3 separate regions of the Homo sapiens genome follow, and all the other regions are reported to be linked to region 1. Evidence: microRNA targets listed by miRTarBase, many of them from high-throughput screens and not tested one by one. Region 1 holds a microRNA gene; each other region holds the end of a gene's coding sequence.
What was found. Region 1 holds the annotated microRNA hsa-miR-606 (AAACUACUGAAAAUCAAAGAU, at 3,270-3,290, opposite strand). A microRNA usually pairs through its seed, bases 2 to 8, with sites in the 3' UTR of a target mRNA and lowers its output. Matches are read on the target gene's strand: a 7mer-m8 pairs with bases 2 to 8, a 7mer-A1 pairs with bases 2 to 7 and ends in A, and an 8mer does both.

Region 1 (6,948 bases):
ATAACAGCTACTTTCATCAAATCATTGCTTGCTATTCCATCATCCAGGTATTCCTGCAGTTGATCTCTGTTGATTGTGTTTCGTCATGCAGTAAGTAATTTTAGGTTGCATCCTGGATCTCTTGAATGATATGTTGTAGAAACTACAGCTTCTCCTAATTTTCTTTGAAGTCACTTTTTTAAAGCACACAGTTAACTTCACTGAAATCAAACTGCAAAACACTGTCTCCCCTAAGGTAGGCAGCAGTTCATATTTCAGTTCAATTGTTTCAGCCTTATCTAGCCAGTGTGGAATCTGCACCACACATGAAGTTCAAAGTCCAGCTTAGATTTAGGTAGATTTTATACATGGAATTTGGGGCTCCACTCTGTGGCTCACTCCTTTCAGAGACCCCACTCCTTCCAGCAGCTAAGGTTGTCCTGAACTCTAGTCTCTGGTTATCCAAGCCAACCAAGATACATATTTTCTATCAAGTTATCTATCTTCCCACATGGCACAGACTGAAGGCTGTACTCAAGAGAAAAGCTGTAGAAAATGAGAAATTCACCCTAAGCCTTTCCCTTCTTCCAAGAGTCAGCTCCCCTTCCGGTAGCTGCCTGCATCTTCTCCCTTAGTAATCATGTAAGAAAAGTGTGGTTGCTCCATAGTTTTCTCTAGAACTCTCTCATAGGGCCATGGAGAGCAGACAGCCCAGGGCCCACCAAACTCCTCCCCATCAGAATCAGAGACTGTCCCTTCTCATCAGATACCCATGGATGCTTAAATCCCAGCCCCTCAGGACTAACTGAAAAGGACCAGTAGATCATCCTGTCCCATCTCCTATGGAGGAGAACAAGAATCCACTCCACCCTGGCTGATATTCTGCTTAAATCTCTCTACTGACAAGAGTATACAACTTTAAGGAAATATAAAAAGAAAAGTAAATGACTTGGACACATTACATACTTCATTTCTTTGCATCTACTCAATCATCCTTTAACGAAAGTATTATCATCCTCATTTTACAGATGAGGAAACTAGGCCTCAAAGAAAGATGTTAACTTGCCTATGTTCTCTCTTCTAGAAAATAGTACAGCCAGGTTTTGAATTTTGGTCACTACAACTCTAAAAGCTCACATCCGTTCCACATTGTCTATCCCACTTTCAACGTCTTTAAACATTGGCAAGTTCTTTCTTAGATTAAACTGAAGTCTGCCACCTTATAATTACCATCATTAGCTGTAATTCATAATTCTAGATTGGGAGCTCCTAAGAGTAGTGATAGGAACTCATTTGTCTTTGCATTCCTAGTACCTAGCACAGAGGAGGGGCTAAATAACTGATCGGTTAATTGATTAATGCCATTAGAAATGTCAGGTAAAAGTCTACACCTACCTCATCACATCAATCTCACAGCTATGTACAGTGACTATCATACACCATGTTCCTCTCTCCAACATCATTTCTCTTCTGCAGTATAAATGTTCCTTGTTTGTTTCATTGCTTCCCATTTGGAAGGATTTCTAGAATCCTCCTGATCACCCTGGACACACTGCAACTGACCAGTGTCACTTAAAATATCATCTAGGAATTCCATTACTTCTCAGGATGCAGAAAACTACAAATAAGCATCACTCCCATACTAAAAGGAAAAAGCCAGATAATCTACAAAATCATAACTTTTCTCCAACCCATCAGAGAGCTGAGGTTGCAAGGCAAATGGTGAACTTAATTTCAAAGTGTGACTAGTCCCTCCAAGAACAGATAGAACACACAAAGCATTTCTTCTTTAGCAGAGGACAGATTGAAAAGGTAGCCATCAAAAAAGTAAATAAAAAGAAAACAGCTAACATTTTAACAAATTTTTTAATGTTGGATATGGGCTAACAAGAAAGTTTAGAATTCCCAAGAGCCCCAGCCACAAGGAGAGTCTGCACTCACTCCTCATTTTTTTCCCCATGGTGCTCACAAGAGAGATTAAGACCAAACAACAGATAAAAGAGAGCCCCCTACACTGTGCACAGGCATGAAATCTTGCCTACTTCCCAGGCCCTTCTCTCATAAAAAAGAGAAGTCATAAGCCACTAAGGAGGAAGCCACTTCCTCCTTAAAAGGTGCGCTTTAACTAAAGGAGAGATAGAAGCAAAATATGTCTGCCTCTGGGTGAAGGGGTAGAAAACCTTTTCAGTTACAGAATCTTGCATAGATATAGAGGCCTGCTGCCCTGGAGGAGGGACAGAAAATGCTCTCCTACCCAAGAGTCCCAACAAATATGAGACAGAAAAAGTCTCATACCTGGGACCCAGATACACAGGGCCTACCTAAGACTGAGATCCTCCACCACACCACAAGCTTCACACTGAGTAATAAGCAACAGCAGTCTAGCCCTCAAAGAGGGGCAACAGCATTGAGAGAGACCCATTCTCTAGAGTAAGCATATGGGACCAGCTGAAAGCTGAGGATGAAATGGAAACTTGAGGAAAACCCTTCATCTCTCCAGGCTCACCACTAAGCAAAGGTAGCAGCAAGCCACCACTGGAAGAATTTGAAGCTGTCATAGAACAAAACTCAGATCTAGCTCAATTACTGACTGCATTGACTCAACTACCCACACTAACATCCCAACAGAAGAGTCTCCATTTCCAAGCATAAATACTATTTGCCTCAGTCTCTACTGTTCTTTTATATGCATTATCTGGCATTGAATCAAAAATTATCAGACAAAAAGCAAGAAAAAAAATGAAGACTCTTGGTCAAAAGATAAAGTAGTCAACATTACCAGAAACAGATGTGATGCAGATGTTAAAATTATCAGATAGGGACTTAAAATAACTATAATTAAGTTTTTAATCTAGAGAAAAAGGTAGACAACATGAATGAATAAATAATTGTAAAAGAGAAATGGAAACTTTTTCTTTAAAATGAGTCAAATGGAAAGGCTAGAAATCAAAAGGATAACAAAAAGGAAGAATTTCATCATAAGGTTTATCAACAAACTGAACACAGCAGAGAAAATGATTTACAAACTTGAAGATAGGTGAGTAGAAATGATCCAAAATAATAACAAGGAAAAAAAAAAGCATATGAGAGCTATAGGATAATAGTAAACAGTATAACATATATTTTGAATCCCAAAAGTAGGAGAGAGAGAAAAGGAAGCAGAAAAAAAAAGTTTGAAGAGATAATAGCTACGAATTTTCCAAAATTAATTAAAAAGAGCAAACCACAGTTCAAAGAACCTCAGAAAATCCCAAGTAGGGGATGAGGGGTAGAAGTGGTCAGGCACTTGTATCTTTGATTTTCAGTAGTTTACTATGATGGGGTGGATGGCACACCTCATCATAGTAAAACTACTAAAAACCAAGGATACAGTGAAAATTCTGAAAGCAGCCAGAGGGGGGGGAAAAAAAAAAAACACAGAACAAAGCTAAGAATGACAGCGCACTGCTCAACAGAAAGAATGCAATGCAAAAGAAAATGGAGTGACACCATTAAAGCACTGACAGAAAAAACTGTCCACATGGAATTCTATACAAGTGAAAGTATCTGCTAAAAAATGAAGGTAAGATAAAGAATTTTTCAGACACACAGAAACTGAAAAAATTCATTGCCAACATACCATACTATGATGATGTTAAATAAAGACCTCAGGCAGGAGTCTGGTACTAGAAGGAAATTCAGATCTACAGAAAGAAAGAGCTCTAGAAATGATTAAAATGTGGATAATAAAAGACAGATTGTTTTTATTTCTTTTATTTTTTAGAGACACGGTCTAACTCTGTTGCCTAGGCAGTGTCTAACTCTGTTGCCCAGGCTGGAGTGCAGTGGTGCAATCACAGCTCACTGAATCCTTGACCTCCTGGGCTCAGGCAATCCTCCTATCTCAGTCTACCAAGAGGCTGGAACTACAGGTTTGAGCCACCACACCCAGCTAATATTTTTTTTAATGTTTTGTAGAGAATGGGTCTCACTATGTTGCCCAGGCTGGTCTCAAACTCCTGGCCTCAAGCGATCCTCTCACCTAAGCCTCCCAAAGTGCTGGGATTACAGGCATAAGCCACAGTGCCCAGCAAATTTTTTCTTAATTTTAGCCTCTCAAAAAAAATAGCTGACTCAATGTGGCACGTATACACCATGGAATACTATGCAGCCATAAAAACGGATGAGTTCATGTCCTTTGCAGGGACATGCATGACGCTGGAAACCATCATTCTCAGCAAAGTAACACAAGAACAGAAAACCAAACACCACATGTTCTCATTCATAAGTGGGAGCTGAACAATTAGAACACATGGACACAGGGAGGGGAACATCACACACTGGGGCCTGTTGGGGGATGGGGGCTAGGGGAGGGGTAGCATTAGAAGACATACATAATGTAGATGATGGGTTAATGAGTGCAGCAAACCACCATGGCACGTGTATACCTATGTAACAAACCCGTATGTTCTGCACATGTACCCCAGAACTTAAAGTATTATAAAAAATAAATAAATAAATATCAAGTAAGCCAGGCCCTCCATGGTCTTACTTTTTAGTGCTTCTACACCTACATATCTCCTGGTAAGGTTGAACCACACTTTCTTTTGTTGCTCTACTTGTGTTCATACTGTTCTATTTCTGTGGAACATCCTTCCTCAAATCCTAGGTTAAAAAAAAAAAAAAAGATAGCTGACTGCAAAATATATTTAGTTTGCAAATAGATTAAACTAGAAAATATTTAAACAGAATATTTTCATTTTCCTATTAATCAAGTAAAAAAAACATTTTCCCAGGTTAAAAAAAAAAGATAATTGCTGTCTAAAGAAAAGATAGTACCAATGATCAGTAGAGTTTATAACATATGTAAAAGTAAAATGTAGACAATAGAACAAAGGATGGAAAGAAGAAAATGGAAGAGTACCATTGTAAGATTCTTAAACTATAAATAAAGCAATGTATTATCTGAAGGTAAACTGTGTTAAATATATATACTGTACACCCTAAAGCAATCACTAGAACATTTTTAAAAGGAGTAAACTTATAAGCCAGTGGTGGAGATGAAATGAAATCATAAATATATACAAATAATTCAAAAGAAGGCAGGAAAAGAAGGAAATAGAGAACATATAAGACACATAGAAAACAATTTGCAAAATGGTAGACTCAAAACCAACTATACCAATAGTTACATTAAGGATAAATGGCCTAAACATTCCAAATTAAAAAGCAGATATAATCAGACTCGTTATGAAAGCAAGACCTGACTATATGCTCTCTAAAAGAAATTCATTATAAATATAAACACAGAGACATATATTAACAGTGAAAAAATAGATACAACACAAACATTACACAAAAACTCCAGTCTGTATAATAACATAATACAAAGTAGGTTTCAGAACAAGGAATATGTTTAGGAACAAAGACTCAGTTCATCAAGAAGATATAACTAATGTATATGTATGCATCTAACAACAGAGTTCCAAAATACATAAAGAAAAATCTGATCAAACTGAAAGAAGTAGACAAAAACCAGGAAGAATAGGAGACTTGAATACTCCTCTCTTAGTAATTTATATAAAAAGTAGATCAAAAATAAGTAAAGATATAGAAGCCTGAACAACACTATCAACCAAATTGAATTAACTGACATCTATAGACGATTCCAACCAACAATAGCAGAATCCACATTCTTTTGAAGGGCCCATGGAACATTCACTAAGACAGACTAGTTTCTGAGCAAATGTTTATAGCTGCTTATTCAAAATAGCTAAAACTTTAAACAGTCCAAACAGCCATCAAATGGTGAATGTGTCAAGAATTGTGGTACATTCACACAATAGAATACTACTCAACAATAAAAAGAAACAAACTAGTGATACATGCAACTACATGGATGAATCTCAAAAGCATTATGCTAAGTGAAAGAAACTAGGCACACAAAAGGGTGAATACTGTATGATTCCATTTTTATGACATTCTGGGGATAGGCAAAGCCACTGAGACAATAATTACATCAGTGCATGCCATGAGCCAAGGAAGGAGAAAGGAGATTGAAAAGTGGGCACAAGGAAACTTTTTATGGCGATAAAAATGTTACGTCTTGATTATGATGATGGTGGTTACATGACTGTATGCATTTGTCAAAAATCATCTGTGCACTTAGAAAGGGAATTAATTGTGCATAAATTATATCTCACTAAATCTGACTTCAAAAATAAAAAATAACCTGAAGCAGTGGCATGTACCTGTAGTCTCAACTACTCAGGAGGCTGAGGCAGGAGGATCACTTTAGCCCAGGAGTCTGAGGTTGTAGTATGCTGTGACTGTGCCTGTGAATAACCTAGACAATGTAACAATACCTTGTCTCTAAAAATATATACAAATAAATAAAATTAAAAACAAATTTAAATACAGTGGTCTGTTGGTATGGGAGATTGGTTCCAGGACACCCCACAAATACCAAAATCTAAGCATGCTCAAGTCCTTTACAGGCAGCCCTTCATATGTGCAGGATCTGCATTCCAGATCAAACATCCCAATATTCAATTGATTGAATATTCTGAGCAAATATTTATTGCTGCTTATTCAAAATAGCTAAAACTTTAAACAATCCAAACAGCCATCAAATGGTGAACGTGTCAAGAATTCTGATACATTCACACAATAGAATACTACTCAACAATAAAAAGAAACAAGCTAGTAATACATGCAACCACATGGATGAATCTCAAAAGCATTATGCTTTTGAGTGAAAGAAACTAGGCACACAAAAGGGTGAATACTGTATGATTCCATTTCAGATTGAATATTCAATTTGTAGTTGGTTGAATTGGTGGATGCAGAAACAGTGGATATACAGGGCCAACTGTACCATTATCCAAGATAGGAAATTGTAGTAATAAACTAATAACAGTAATAATAAATAACTCTTAACATGGTCAGATCAGCATAGGTCTTGACTAACCTTCCTGGAAAAGACTTTTT
Region 2 (6,948 bases), not on the chromosome of region 1:
CACTAGGGAAATCTTCAATATTAAAGCCTAAGGTCTAGGAAAGAAAACATCAATGAACTCAGGACACACAAAATATTGGAGTCACATTTGTTCATGTACGTTTGAGTTAGTAACCACTAGCAGTACTTGTGTGGAAACTTCTCAATATTCTACAGCACTTAACTATCCAATAAAGTAGTCTCACGTCACACGTCTCTAAATAAAAATTTAAATCTAACTCTTCACACTAGCCACATCTCAAGGCTCAGTAAAGTCACCAGTTGTTATACTGGTCAATGCATCATAAAACACTTCCATCGCCACGAAGTGTTACTGACAGTACTATAGCTTTAACAGCTCACTGTAACATGCGTTGATAACAAGGAATTTTCCCCCTCCCTAACCACCAGATGACTCTTTGGGTGCCTTCTTTACTCTGGGGCCTAGACTTTAATGAGGGTACACCTTGGCCCTTTTAGCTGCCTTCAGTTCTTTGATGAAAACATACCACTCACACATCCTCTTACTGCACTTAATTCTGACATATACAGTCATCCCTCTACTAAACTTATTGGCCAGCCACCCAGCCACCGTTTCTTGAAACCCGTGTCCTTTCCTAATCCTCACCCCTCTTTATCACACAGGGTTTTTTGTTTTGTTTTGCCTTTGGTGAGTAGTTCACAATTTGGGCCAAAAATTGGAATTATGGCAACTTAAAAAACAACGAAGAGTCCCAACCCCAGAGATTTAGTAGGCCTGGAGCACACACCTGGACATCAGAATTTAAAAGCCCATCCCCCTGCTCCCAGGAAATTTTAATGCACATTGACAGTTGAAACCTATTAAACTCCACAAATTTGGTAATGTAATAATCCAAAAGCCACAATTTTCCTAGACTTCTGAAAGTCTTGTAGGAGTTATTTTTGCAAATGCAAATTTGTCAGAGCTTCAGAGCCATGTTTCTCCAAACTTTTATTTCTGAGTGCCACTTGAAAAAAACAATCCAAACATGCTTTCCTCTTCCTATCTGCATTTATCTTGGGTTCTAACTCCTTCCTACTAATCCCTTTGTCATTTGCATTCACCCCCTTACACTGTTCTCCCCTTCCTCTTACTATGCTTTGTAGTTCTACTCACAAAGGGCGTTAACTCCAATGAAGAAGCCCTGCTTTTCAAAATTGAGATTTAACTTGAAAGTTACTAATGCAAACACAAATTCTGCAGTTTTCTACTTTATTTACTTCCTGTCTCCTAACACTTGGAAAGCTTTTGTCTGGTCAGGTATGTCTACGTTCTTTTACTCTGCAGTTCAACTGGCTACATTTTTACTTTATACCAAGTTCTCTCCAAACACTAGAATTCTCCAACAGAGTGCTCCTTCTTAGTGTGAATGAGGTACTCAGACCATAATCCACATATTATATGTAACTCATTTACTGGTCAATCATTTCTACATCATATGTTTACTACTGTCGACTGGTTTTCTGGTCAGGGTACTTTTTCTTGGATGCTTCTAAATTCCTATGAAATGCATTTTTTTGGTCAATGTGATGTGAACTAGGGTCCAGAAACTGAAACTCCATTTGACATCAGTGTAGCTGAATTCCCCTAATAAATAAAAAGGTCAACTGTCAGTAGGAATAAGTATGTTTTCTGGTTTTCCCCTGAAATAAAATTGGTCAGTCAATGCTGACAGGCCAGGCATATGTTCCTGAGCTGATCACATTAAATATACACAATTTCTCTATCCTGCGACTACTTTCAAAAGCACATTGTTTCATCAAGGTTATCTCAAAACACTAGTACTTGCATATAGTGTATCATCTGCTCTACTTCTGTACTTTCTATATTATACACTGGGTTTTGCTTCCCCTAACACTTGAATAAAACATACTGCCAAGTTATAGTAGATTCGTATGTTCACACTTCATGGTTATCTTATGGTTTAAATGATGGTTACGTCTATTGTACTATTACATTCTTCCCAATCCTAATTTGACACCTGTTCATTTCCTTCCAATTTACCACCTTTTTGTTCCCATTTACATTATTTTCCTTTTCTATTACACCCGGTTCCCTCTGAAAAAGAGGATTTAAACCACGTAAGTAATAGGTACTAATCACACAATCTTTGCATGTTGGGGTAATATTAACATCAGAAGTGAAATACAAGAGGAGCCCTCCTTTTGAGAATCCCAAATTTAGCATCCATTCCCACCTGACAGCTTCCAGTTAGCTCATCCCACTGAGACAGCAGCAATTTATTAATTACCCTAGAAGAAGTTTCCCAATTATACGTTATGCAGCACCAGAAAAAAATGTTACTAAGGATTTTTTATCTACCTCCTCTCCTGCTTTCTAACCCTGAAATGAAAACTGCATTCTTGAATGATTGCAGGACATTTTCTTAGATTTCATGGCATATTGAGAAACTTGTGTTCTGAATTTTATCCCAAATTAAAATGTTTTTACTTTTAAATCTTACTTCCACTACTGCAGTGTAATCAGACTATCAATCTGAAATCCCTCAATTATTAAATCAGAAATCACTCAATTATTACCGTCAGATCTAACCCCTTTACCTGCACTGCCATGCCTACTATTCTGAATTTCTATTGAGCCAACTCAATTCTTACTTTGCAGGGCCCAGGGTTAAGTAATGTCACACTGACTATAAGCATATCATCTGATAAATGGCCTTTAAAAACACTAGCCCCTTTCCCAAAAAGCCTGTACTTATCTGCATTAGATCAGATTTTTAAAAGCCTTTTACCATGTGGTATTTCAATCCTGGTCTCTTTACTTTGCTACAGTTTTGGCCTAGGAACCTAAATGTCAAAGTACTCAATGAGTACACCTGTGATTATAGAAAACCTAGAGTACTGTTGTCTTAAACACGAGGAAATTTAAGCCACAGTAGCGTAGCCTAAAACCAAGAGCGTGAAATGACTTCCCCATCAACACAAACTAGACATGTCAGTATTCCAACAACCCTACCATATGTGTGTATAGATTTTCAATCTGTGATCATGCTCTACGGCTATTTGCAAAAGTAACTGCAGCTAATTAAAAGTAATGGCAAAAGCCACAATTACTTTTGCACCAACCTAATATTAAAAAGCGCTCTCCACAGCTTCATTCAATACCTGCTTTCCTAGAATAAAATGTATAGTTGGCCCCCCATGTTCATGGGTTCTGCACATGCAGATTCAGCCAACTACAGATCGAAAATACTAGCAAAGAAAAAAAACTAAAAAAAGTTAACAAAAATATAAATAAAAAAAGTTACAACTATTTACATACCATTTACATTTTATCAGGTATTTTAATGTAGAGATGATTTAAAATATACAGGAGAATATGCATAGGTTACATATAAATACTATGCCATTTTATGTAAGGGACTTGAACATCTGCAGATTGTGGTGTTCACAGCTAAACAGACTGCTCTGTGCAGGGAGAGGCCCTACAGTGAAGGGAAAAGTAGACACTTGATTGTGGACTAATTTGTTCAGTATTTCCCAAAAACTTACAGCTAACAATAATATTAAACAGGTTTTATTAGCATCTTATACATCTGACACTCTCTCCTAAGCATCCAGTTTATTTTCTAGTCACGGGTTACTTACTAAAAGTCTGTGTAACATGAGCTCACATCAGATTAGAAAACATCAAGTGGGTAGTATTTTTGACTGAATTAACATACAAAAGAAATTGCCTATATCATGTATATGGGCTCCAAGGGTAGTTCATACTTCAGCCTCTTCATTCTTTTCTGCTTTTGTCACCTGTTACAGAAAATGATCTATAAAATCCTCATAAATAAGACATGAGTTTTGCCTGTAATGAGTAGGATGAAAAAAGGCCAGTGCCGCATGCTATGAAACAATAGCAACTTTACAGGGGAATCCAAGGTTTGTGTGCACAAAAATTATAAGCGGCATTTTCTGCTATGCTGGAAAAACTGAAGTATAAAACACAAATGAACTAAGCCTTTCAAGGATGAGGTATCACCAACACTGGTAGCTGTTTAATATATTCATCTTACAACTGGATGCTAAAAATGCAATCACTGTAATTAATAAAGTTGAGGAAAACACAAAGATTAGCTAACAGGGGTAAAAGATCATTTAGAGTAAAATAAATGTGTAACATTCTCTATGTTCTCAATCACCTGGGAAGGCAGTCTATGGAATATCAGGAAGTAAGAGTTTTCTTGTTTTCAGGAACATGGAGGTATATACACTTCAGAATTCAGAAGGTAACTGGGGCTATAAATAGTAATTAAAAGAACAAAATAGAAGCAGGGGGGTTCCATTATGCAGCTGTCGCCATTTTCCTGAAATCTTGATGTTTTTGAGCCTCTCCTATTTAAGGACAAAACCATTTAGCACAAAACACAAACCTCAGAAAGGGTGCCAGCTGGACCACAAAGCACTGATGAAAAGGCAGAGAGGATATACTTCCCAAACTTTCATTAGGATGTAAAAGCCATTTTGAAAAAGTCTCCACTCTATGTCAAGTTGACTCCTCAATGCAACATGCATCTCAATGAAATATAATTTGAGTAGTGTTGTGTTGGTATGCATCATGATTATGACTCCAAGAAAAATATATCTAGTGCATTCTAGAGGTTTTGTGGAGGACGCTGTAAAACAAAGTTTGAAGTAAACAATAATAAAATACAAAAATAAAAAACCAGGGTTTTTTTTTTCTCCAAATTCCTGGTTTAATAAGGACTTGTTTATTTTGAGGAAAAAAGGTCCCAAACATCAGGCTGTTCACAAAAATAACCCACAGTATCAACTTTAGAAAACAAATCTTAAGACTATAACACTAATTATTTTTCTAGAGGATGCATTTGACATGCCAACTCTCATTCACAAAAATACATTGTTACATTTGTGTTGAACTGCCCCACACAGCACACTAATGTGAGGGTGTAACACACATACTTCTAACTCAAAGCTGCTTTCAAGAGCTACTCAACTAAATGAGATTGCCTTTGCAGTTAGGGAAGCAACTACTGAACTTATGTATGAATGAAAAGAACTGTACTCCCTGCATAACAAGAGATTATTTTGGAGACAGTTGATAAAAACCATACATCCTTTTTATTGTTAAGTCATAAAGAGGTATCAAAATTAAAAGCAAAAATTACAGGGTAAGACTTAACAAAACTACTAGGAGCGTCAAAGGAAGTGAAAATGGGACTAGGCGCGGGGCAATATGAATTAATGAACATGGGAAGGACAAGGATGGGGAGAACAGTGAGCATGTGCTGAAGATACTAGGGGAGAGGATCTGGTGAAAAATTTGATCTTAGACAAGCGCCTAGGTAAAGAAATAATGGGATAAGATTTCTAAACCCCACTATGTGCTTAAGAGTCATCCTCGCCATTGGCGCTGTCTCTGTCATCCTCTCCTTCCTCAGCCTCTTTTTCATCATCCTTGATCAACTCCAGCTGTGAGAAACAGACACAAACAGGATGGAGTTAGAGGCACTCCATGTGTCCCTGAGCCCCCCTCCACCACCTTTTTCTTTCCTTTCCCGTGGTTTTCACCTGGTCATCCCCCCGATCTTCATTATCATCATCATCCAGTAGGTCCCCCTCCTCAGCAGAGTCATCTGCACCCCCCTCAGACTCCATCTTCACATTAGTCTCATCTTTCTTCACGGAGCTGCTGCTCTGCTCCTCTTCTGACTTATCATTCTTCATCTCTACTGCGGATGAGAAGGACAAGTCTGTCTAGGGGCAGTAATGTCCACAGGACGTAGACAATCCCCACTAAGGATCACAGAACTGCAGCACAAATCTAAATCCTCCCACACAAATACCCTTCCCAATTCACACTCCCCAAGTTTCATATTACATTGCTTTATATTCCACTATTCCAACATGTACTTTCAAGTGCCTTATGTAACTAACCCAACTGTATACCAAGGGCAAGCAGAAAACCCATTTACCTGCTTGTTTGCTCTGTTCCTTTTCAATTTTTTCCAGGTTTTCCAGGAGAGAATCCACTTTTTGTTTTATCTGGGTCAGCTCCTTCTTAATGGCCTGAAGGTCATCTCCTTTCACTTTAATATAAACAAAATACTAGATTAAAATCAAATGTACCGAAGATATGAGTTAGCAAATACACTGCCACCAGACTACATCAGGAGCTCACAGGAGATACCCAGGGAGAAACAGAGCCAGTACAGATTTCTCGGTAATAAAGGCCCTTGGTTCTATTATAAAGCACGTTCTGTAATGGTTTTTATTGTTTTTAATGTCTTTTAGATCAGGGCTGTCGCTATGTTGACCAGGCCTGAGGACAGTGACTATTCACACGTATGATCACAGTGAACTTAAACTCCTGGCCTCATGAAATCCTCCCACTACAGCCTAGATCCCCAGGGTCTTAGCCTCCCCCTAAGCATCTGGGGCTACAGGCACGCACCACTGCATCAGACCTTCTGTAATGTTTTACTGCCTTCCATATTTCCAGTTACAGGAGGAGTTCAATATAGAAAAGTTAAAAAAAATCAACATACTGAACACTGTCTGAATTTTAGTTTTTAAATAACACAAAAAAATCTCAGGAACTTAACGCACACCTCAACTACATAAAGTCAAATGACATTTTTTAAATTACCTAGCTGTTGCAGTCTAGAATTGGCCACTCAATCACAATCTTGTCTCCTCTGTTATTTTGGATTTTTTTTTTTTTCTTGAGATGGAGTTTTGCTCGTCACCCAGGCTGGAGTGCAATGGCATGATCTCGGCTCACTGCAACCTCCGCCTCCTGGGTAAAAGCGATTCTCCTGCCTCAGCCTCCCAATTAGCTGGGATTACATGCACGCACCACCATCCCCGGCAAATTTTTTGTATTTTCGGTAGAGATGGGGTTCCTCCATGTTGGACAGGCTGGTCTTGAACTCCTGACCTCAGCTGATCCACCCGCTGGGCCTCCCAAAGTGCT
Region 3 (6,948 bases), not on the chromosome of region 1:
AAGGTACTGAAGACATGGAATTTCTGAGGGCCAGTTTTTCCAGTGCTTTCTGTGAGAATACTTCATTATTTGCTGATGACGCACTTTTCCTTGACCTCTGTAGAGACTCTTGAAGACAACTCTGAAAAGTGGGCTGTGACTCCCGATGCAGGGGATGGTGTGGTCAAGCCCTCGTCTAGAGCAGACCCAGCCCAGACCTCTGACACATTAGCCTTGAACAACCAGATGGTGACCCAGAACAGGACTCCACACAGCGTTTGCCACCAGAAACCACAAGCAAAATCTGGATCTTGGGACCTCCAAACTTATAGCGCTGACCAACGCACAACAGGTAGCAGAGAGGTGTTTAGGCACAAAAATTAAGGGGAGATCCTAGCTTTAATTCTGGGAATTTTTGAGGAAGGATGACATTTCATTTAAAGTTTGATAGAATCGGGAACTTCTATTAGGGAATGGTACTGCAAGTAGAACAGAATTGATTTAAGAGCCAGAACGTTTCCTTTGGGCTCCTGACTTCAGGTGCAGCCCTTTTCAGCTCCTGATAATAGCAGGAAGCGGAAACGACTGCATGGAGAGCTGTCCCTCCCAGCAGCAGGTCTGTCATGAGCACGAGGCCACTTGGTCTAGGAGAATCATCTGCCTTCCTCCTAACAGTAATTCTCATTCTTGGGCTTAGTCTAAATTAGGATCATTAATATAATCCAGAAATCATTAGCTGTCAGTTTATTTTAAAATTATGGCAGCTACATTTAAGCCATTTTGTCTTCCATAGGAAACTGGGAATCTCATAGGAAGAGCCAGGACATGAAGAAAAGGAAATATGATCCATCTTAACTGAGGCTCAGGCCACATAATTGGACTCTGTCACAAAGGGACTTTGGAAAACTACTTTTTGGTCATGAAATTGTTCATCGCTGCTGGAGAATGAACGTCATTGCGATTTATCTTGCTTCATTCTGAACCTTATCAAGAGGATCTGACTGAGAGCCCACTGCAGTTAGAGCTGAGCACTTTTGAAAAGCTTGTCCATCACTCTAGTAGGGAGAGGCTCTGGACAGATGAATACCTTTTCTTCGGCTTGTGAGGCTTCCCACTATTTATTACTGAACTATTATGTTAATGAAGATGGACATTTTAGGAATCACCAATGGCTCCTTGCCCTCAAGCAATATAGGCCAGACTTGGTCCTAAGCACCTGCCTCAGCAATTGTCTACATTCAGTTGTTTTGCATAACGTCTGCCTTCTTTCCTTTACGGTCCATGCCTTTAATGTTGCCCACATTAAGCACTGTGGATCACGACAGGAAAAAGGTTGGAGCAGTGCTTTTCACTACTTTGTATCAATCCAGGCTACAATCTTCATTTAATATAAATAATTTATGGATTTATGACATTACAATCCTGCATTGTTTCAAGACTGACATTTTTTCCTAAGGAAGGAAATAATCATCTAAGACCACGAAAAAAGGCTGTTTTTTGTTTTTTTTTTTTTTTTTTTTTTTGAGACGGGGTCTGGCTGTGTTGCCCTGACTGGAGTTCAGTGGTGCAAACACAGCTCTCTCCACAACCTCTTGGGCCCAAGTGATACTCCCACCTCTGCCTTACAAAATACAGGGATTACTGGTGTGAGCCACTGTGTCTGGCCAGAAAAGGCATTTTTGAGAAAGCAAATCGTATACCTTATTAACAAAATAGAATATATATATATTGCTTATCTGAAATGCTTGAAACCAGAATTGTTTTGCATTTTTTGAATATTTGTATACACATAATGAGACCTTGGGGATGGGACCCAAGTCTGAACGTGGAATTCACCTGTGTTTCGTGTATATGCCTCATACACATAATTTTGTGCATGAAACAGAGTTTTTGTATAAGAAGATACACTGCAGCTGAAGAGGGCTGGGTTTTTTTTTCTCTTAGGGTCGCTGCATAAACTGTTGTATGCCTGGTGCTTTGCGACTTGTCACACGAGGTCACGTGTGGAATTTTCCACTTCTGGCATCACGTCAGTGCTCAGAAATTTTCTGATCTCAGAGCATTTCAATTAGGGATGCTCAAACGCAACTGTTTCTACTTCCCCATTTCAGGTGTGAGATGTAACCCACCTTGACCATAAATTGGCTTTTCATAGTGCTCAGATGTTTCATAATTCTTCCCCCAAAATAATGAAGTTTGCAGTTTAACAACTTTTTTTTTGAGAGGGGGGGTCTGGCTCTGTAGCGCAGGCTGGAGTGCAGCGGTGCCATCTTGACTCATTGCAGCCTCCGCCTGCCAGGATTCAAGCAATTCTCCTGCCTCAGGCTCCCGAGTAGCTGGGATTACAGACACCCACCACGACGCCCGACTAATTTTTGTATTTTTAGTAGAGGAGACGGGGTTTCTCCATGTTGGCCAGGCTGGTCTCAAACTGACCTCAAGTGATCTGCCCACCTCGGCCTCCCAAAGTAAAAAGTACTAGAATTATAGGCATGAGCCATTGCGCCCAGCCAATTTAATAATTTTTTTAGACGTATTATTTTGGGCTGGGCTGTGGCTAATCTTGAAGCAGTGACTTCCTATTTTTTGGCTCAGACCCATTTGGGAAGCTGTGAACCTGAGATAAGGAAGTCTGAAAGTACTAGCCGGCAGCCGACCGTTTCTATTCCTTTCGAAGTTAAGGAGACAGCAAAGGAGCTCCCAGGAATTAGGGATCCAGTTATAAATTGCACTTAACTCAAAATAGTGCCAGTGAGAATGTGAAGGAATCTTCTGGAAATGAAACCCCACAGCTCAACAAAAGCAAGTTTGGTTTATTTGAATGGTTTCATTAAATAAGTCTACAAAGGTAACAAACTGAAGCACAAAGCGCAATCTTACAAGAAGCGCAACACCCAGAGTTAGTGCAAAATGTACAATTAACGGCTGCTGAGAAACCCCCAAAGTTTGAATTTTTATTTTTATTTTTAACAGTGTACATTGTTAAATAATGTAAGGAAAACATTTATAATTCAGAAAGTTTTTAATGTGGAAAAAGATACTCAAAGTGTACTATTAACACAAAAATAATTTAAACAGTTCAGTAGCACTAGTTCATTCCTCTAGGCTTGTTATTTCATACACAGGAGGATGAAATCAACAGTAAATAACACCAGTTCTGACTTTTTTTGTGTATGAGTGAAAAGATGTCAAAATTATTATTAAACCCAAATAACAAATGATAATGTGCTGCATGAGGCTCCACTGCTCCTCTGGTATAAAGTATGTTTCACTCTTGGGTGGCCCCTTTCTCAGCTACTCAGCCCCTTGTTGGTTCTATCCTTACTCTCTCCACAAGAAATACAAGCAGAGAATAAATAAATCATTTTAAAGCAGGGGTGGAAGCCCTTGCCCTTTTCCTTTCTACCTTTTAAAAACCTTCAGCTCTCATTTGCATATTTAGGGCCGTAGACCAACTTACTTACTTACTAAGGGAAGCAGGGCCCTTAAGGAATGAACAGGGTACAGGAGCCTCCAGCCTCTTTCTGTGGTAGTGGTGGTGGTGGTGGTGATTCCCAGAATATGCCATTGACGTGGGTAAAAGGTTGGAAATATTTTCAGTTTCCCAACTAAGAGTCAAGAAGCACCCCAAAATTAAGAGTCCTAGCTTCTTTCTTTGTCTTCAGAGATAACAAAGATCCTAAACATAGCCAGTTAGGACAGTATTTCCGGAAAGCTCTGAAAATAATTAATAACTACCCATTACAAGGAGGCATAGCACTGAATAACACTGATTGGTTGCAGTTATTACTTACGGGGAGTATTATTTATTTGAAAATGTGAACATATTAGTTGTACTTCTAGAAATAAAGGTGGCACAATAGATTATGATCCTGCAACCATTTGGACATCATAAAGGAAATGAGTAGGAATAAGTATTCTTTCCTAGAATGATTAATTCAGATGTGGAAAGATAGATAGATTAACTTTCCACAAAATGTAGTACCCCAAGCTGAGAAATGCATGGTACATGTGCAACAAGAGGAAAGCAATCCAAACAGTTTTTCTGAGAGCAATTTTCTCCATCTGTGACTTTTCACTATCAGGTTCCCCAACTTGAAAACTAGCCCCCCACCCCCTTCTCTTTATGTTCAGTTTCTTCTAGGTCACGTCTGTTCAAGCCTAGCTCAAATAAGAAAGGTTTATATGACAGTCACTGGCCAGGCATCACGTTTGTTTCCTCATTCTTTAGTCTTTGTCTTTCACCCAGCACACACCATTCTTTTAAGTTGTCCAATTTTGTTACAACACCCCCTCCTCACTATTCCCGAAACAGAACTTTCTGTTTTTAACCACTGATGCCAACCTAACTTCCCACCCTACTCATCTTACACCTGCTCTAGACAAAGTTGTTGAATGACTTAAAAAAATACTTTTTCAATTTCCCTTTGGCATAACCACTGCTGGACTGCTGGGGTCACATGGACCTACGATTTCCTTCCACATGCCCTTTATTGATCTGGGGTCTGGTAAGTTGATGCTAATGGCAGAAGCAATAGAAGTCCAAGGCACTAAAATGTCCAGCAAGCAACACTGGGAAACAGAAGTATTCAAGTACAGTAATTTATACAATTTTACATTCACATTTATTTATCTAATACAATGGAAATACAAAGGAAAAAGTTAAAGTGTCTCAATAAGTAAAGGACAGAGCTAGCTTTTTTTGGAACTTTTTAAACGTTTCATATTTTACTCTTAAAACTACTGTTGTCCAACAACATTTTATATATCACAGTGTTTCCACATCAAAACTGATGGCAAAGTTACATGTCCGCAGGGAACTTAATTTTTTTTTTTTCCTAATTGCTAATGCTGCAGTCAAAGCTGCTAATATCTTTTGCTTAAAGCACTAATGACCTATCATAAGAAAGAGTTGCACCCCAGTACCCTGGTATTTTTCACTGGGTTCTAAAGAGCAAAGAAAAAATAAAAAAGAGAGGGGTAAAAAAAAGGGAGGAGGGCAGGGTAGGAGAGAGCCCAGTAGGTGGTTTTTGTCCTGTGGTTCGGATTCTTGAGGGAGTGAGGGATTCAGGGCATGTACCAAAAGCAAGAGCTCCACCCACTCGAAATTACAGATGGGTTTGATTTTACATTGAGTTCTCCAGCTTCCTTATGAACAAGACTTTCCTAGCCCTCATCCTCATTACTGAGTATAGATAAACAGGAAAGCATGGTCTGAAGCTGCCCCTTGACAAAAAAGCTGTTCTTTCCTTCCTCTCCCATTCCAATAACTGGAGCGGGGGAGACTCTCCATTCTGAGGGCTCAATGCAGTATTAAAAACATTCCCCTCTGGCAAGAAATAACCAGTTAAATGCAGCACTAGTAGTTAGTATATAGGCTACTTCCCACCCCCACCCACCCCCTCAGCATTCCATCTCCTGCCCCCAGATCTATTCAGTTAATGTCTCTAGGTCTAAGTGGTCCGCAGGTTGGAGCCTGGGGGGTTGCTGATGGATTTCTGCAAATTGCTGATGTTGAAATTCTGCAAGGAGGCAGTTCCCACAGGTTGGAACTGGCCAAGTGGCTGTGGTGCTGGGCCACCCGTCCCACTCCATTGAGCGCCAAATGGGGTAGCTGGAAAGCCATACTGCTGTGGGGGGCACATAGACTTGGTGAAGTGACCTAGAGAGGTAGCTGATGCTGCAGAGATGGGGGCAGAGCCACCCAGGTTCGAGGTCATGGAGATGCACAGTTGCCCAGGTGCAGAGAACTTCCTTGCCATTCCAGGGCCCTGAAAACAAAACCACCACGTGTCAAGTCTGGTGTGGGCCATGGTATAAAATGTGTGGCGCTAACATATACTTCTAGTATAATCCTGTAAGATACAGCAGAACAGTCTTCTGTAGTATTTATTGGCTCTTTATATTTACCAAGTAAGGGTGAAAATAATCCTCATGAGAGGGAGGGATGTCATGTGCGTGTGTGTCTGTGTGTGTGTAGTTGAGGATGACGAAGGAAAAACGAAGAAGAAAAAGTTGAGCTGACCAACAAGAGGTTAGGAATTCAGGGAAGGAAAAATAAAAGGGTACCTGGGGGATTTTTGCCTTGTTTTTCTAAAGTATTAAAATTGAAGAAGGTCGTGGCGTAAGACGTTAAGCAGCAGCTTAGTTGTTTCTATCACCTTGACTCAGATGTGTGTTACGGATTCTCTGCGGCAAAAGAGAGACTTACCTCGTAATTCATGTGCCCTTTGCTTCCTCTCCTGCCTGAGAGATTCATGGCATCTCGGGCCCAATTGTCTACCAACTTGTGCAAGTCATCTGTGAATGTGCCCTTCCTGCTGGACGTCATGGCAGGAGGCTGAGCTTGGGCGGCTTGGCTGTTCACTGTTGCCCCAACAGTGTTTGTGCTGCTGGTTCCTATTATAAGCAACAGAATACGAGCATTAAAAGAAGCCTAGGTTACAATTTCAGGAAGAGGGAAAACTTCACGGGATGATGAATGGCAAGCCACAGAATGAGAAGAGGATGAACTGGGAAGCCATGCAAGAGGGAAGATTCCAAGGTTTTGTTTAGCCATTTGTTTTGGTATAATAGGGTGATGAAAACAGTTTCTCTTCAGTAGCTGCTGCTAAGGCTGAACAACTCAGGATGACGGTAGGTACACAGGCAGGGGCCTCTTTCAGTCCATTCACAAAGCACCTAAGAGTATTGGAACTGCTCGCCAGTACGCTATTCCCAGCATCACGTTGCTGATGGAGGTGTGATACAATCAGCAAGGCTAGTTGCTCTGGAATTTTGCAGAATGCAGGGAAAAAGAGGTTTTCTTGTGCATTGGGCACGGTTAAAGTAGGAGTAGGAAAAGATGCTTGGCTAAGGATAAGGAGAAGGTGGGTTTCCAAACCATTGGACACTGCCACATTCTTTAGCCTTTTTTTTTTTTTTTGAGATGGAGTCTCACTCTATTACTCAGGCTGGAGTGCAGTGGTA

Region 2: miRTarBase lists HNRNPC as a target of hsa-miR-606. Seed matches in the 3' UTR shown: 7mer-m8 at 5,158-5,164 and 7mer-m8 at 5,001-5,007.
Region 3: miRTarBase lists WNK1 as a target of hsa-miR-606. Seed matches in the 3' UTR shown: 7mer-m8 at 4,718-4,724 and 7mer-A1 at 3,711-3,717.

What each region holds. Positions count from the first base shown.
Region 1 is chr10:75,548,860-75,555,807 of GRCh38, reverse strand. It overlaps MIR606 (microRNA 606), which reads right to left and starts at 3,350; the gene lies at 3,255-3,350. The region is part of intron 2 of LRMDA (leucine rich melanocyte differentiation associated); the gene reads right to left.
Region 2 is chr14:21,205,863-21,212,810 of GRCh38, forward strand. HNRNPC (heterogeneous nuclear ribonucleoprotein C) reads right to left here. Exons shown (of 9, transcript NM_004500.4): 7 at 5,948-6,061; 8 at 5,544-5,704; 9 at 3,285-5,444. The coding sequence ends at 5,361. It overlaps LINC00641 (long intergenic non-protein coding RNA 641), which reads right to left and starts at 1,038. Exons shown (of 2, transcript NR_038971.1): 1 at 749-1,038.
Region 3 is chr12:907,277-914,224 of GRCh38, reverse strand. WNK1 (WNK lysine deficient protein kinase 1) reads right to left here. Exons shown (of 28, transcript NM_018979.4): 27 at 6,191-6,378; 28 at 2,773-5,750. The coding sequence ends at 5,433. RAD52 (RAD52 DNA repair protein) reads left to right here. Exons shown (of 12, transcript NM_134424.4): 11 at 104-331; 12 at 773-2,489. The coding sequence ends at 834. Among named protein-coding and RNA genes, the nearest start is that of RAD52, 39 kb to the left of the region's middle. RefSeq lists an enhancer at 1-379.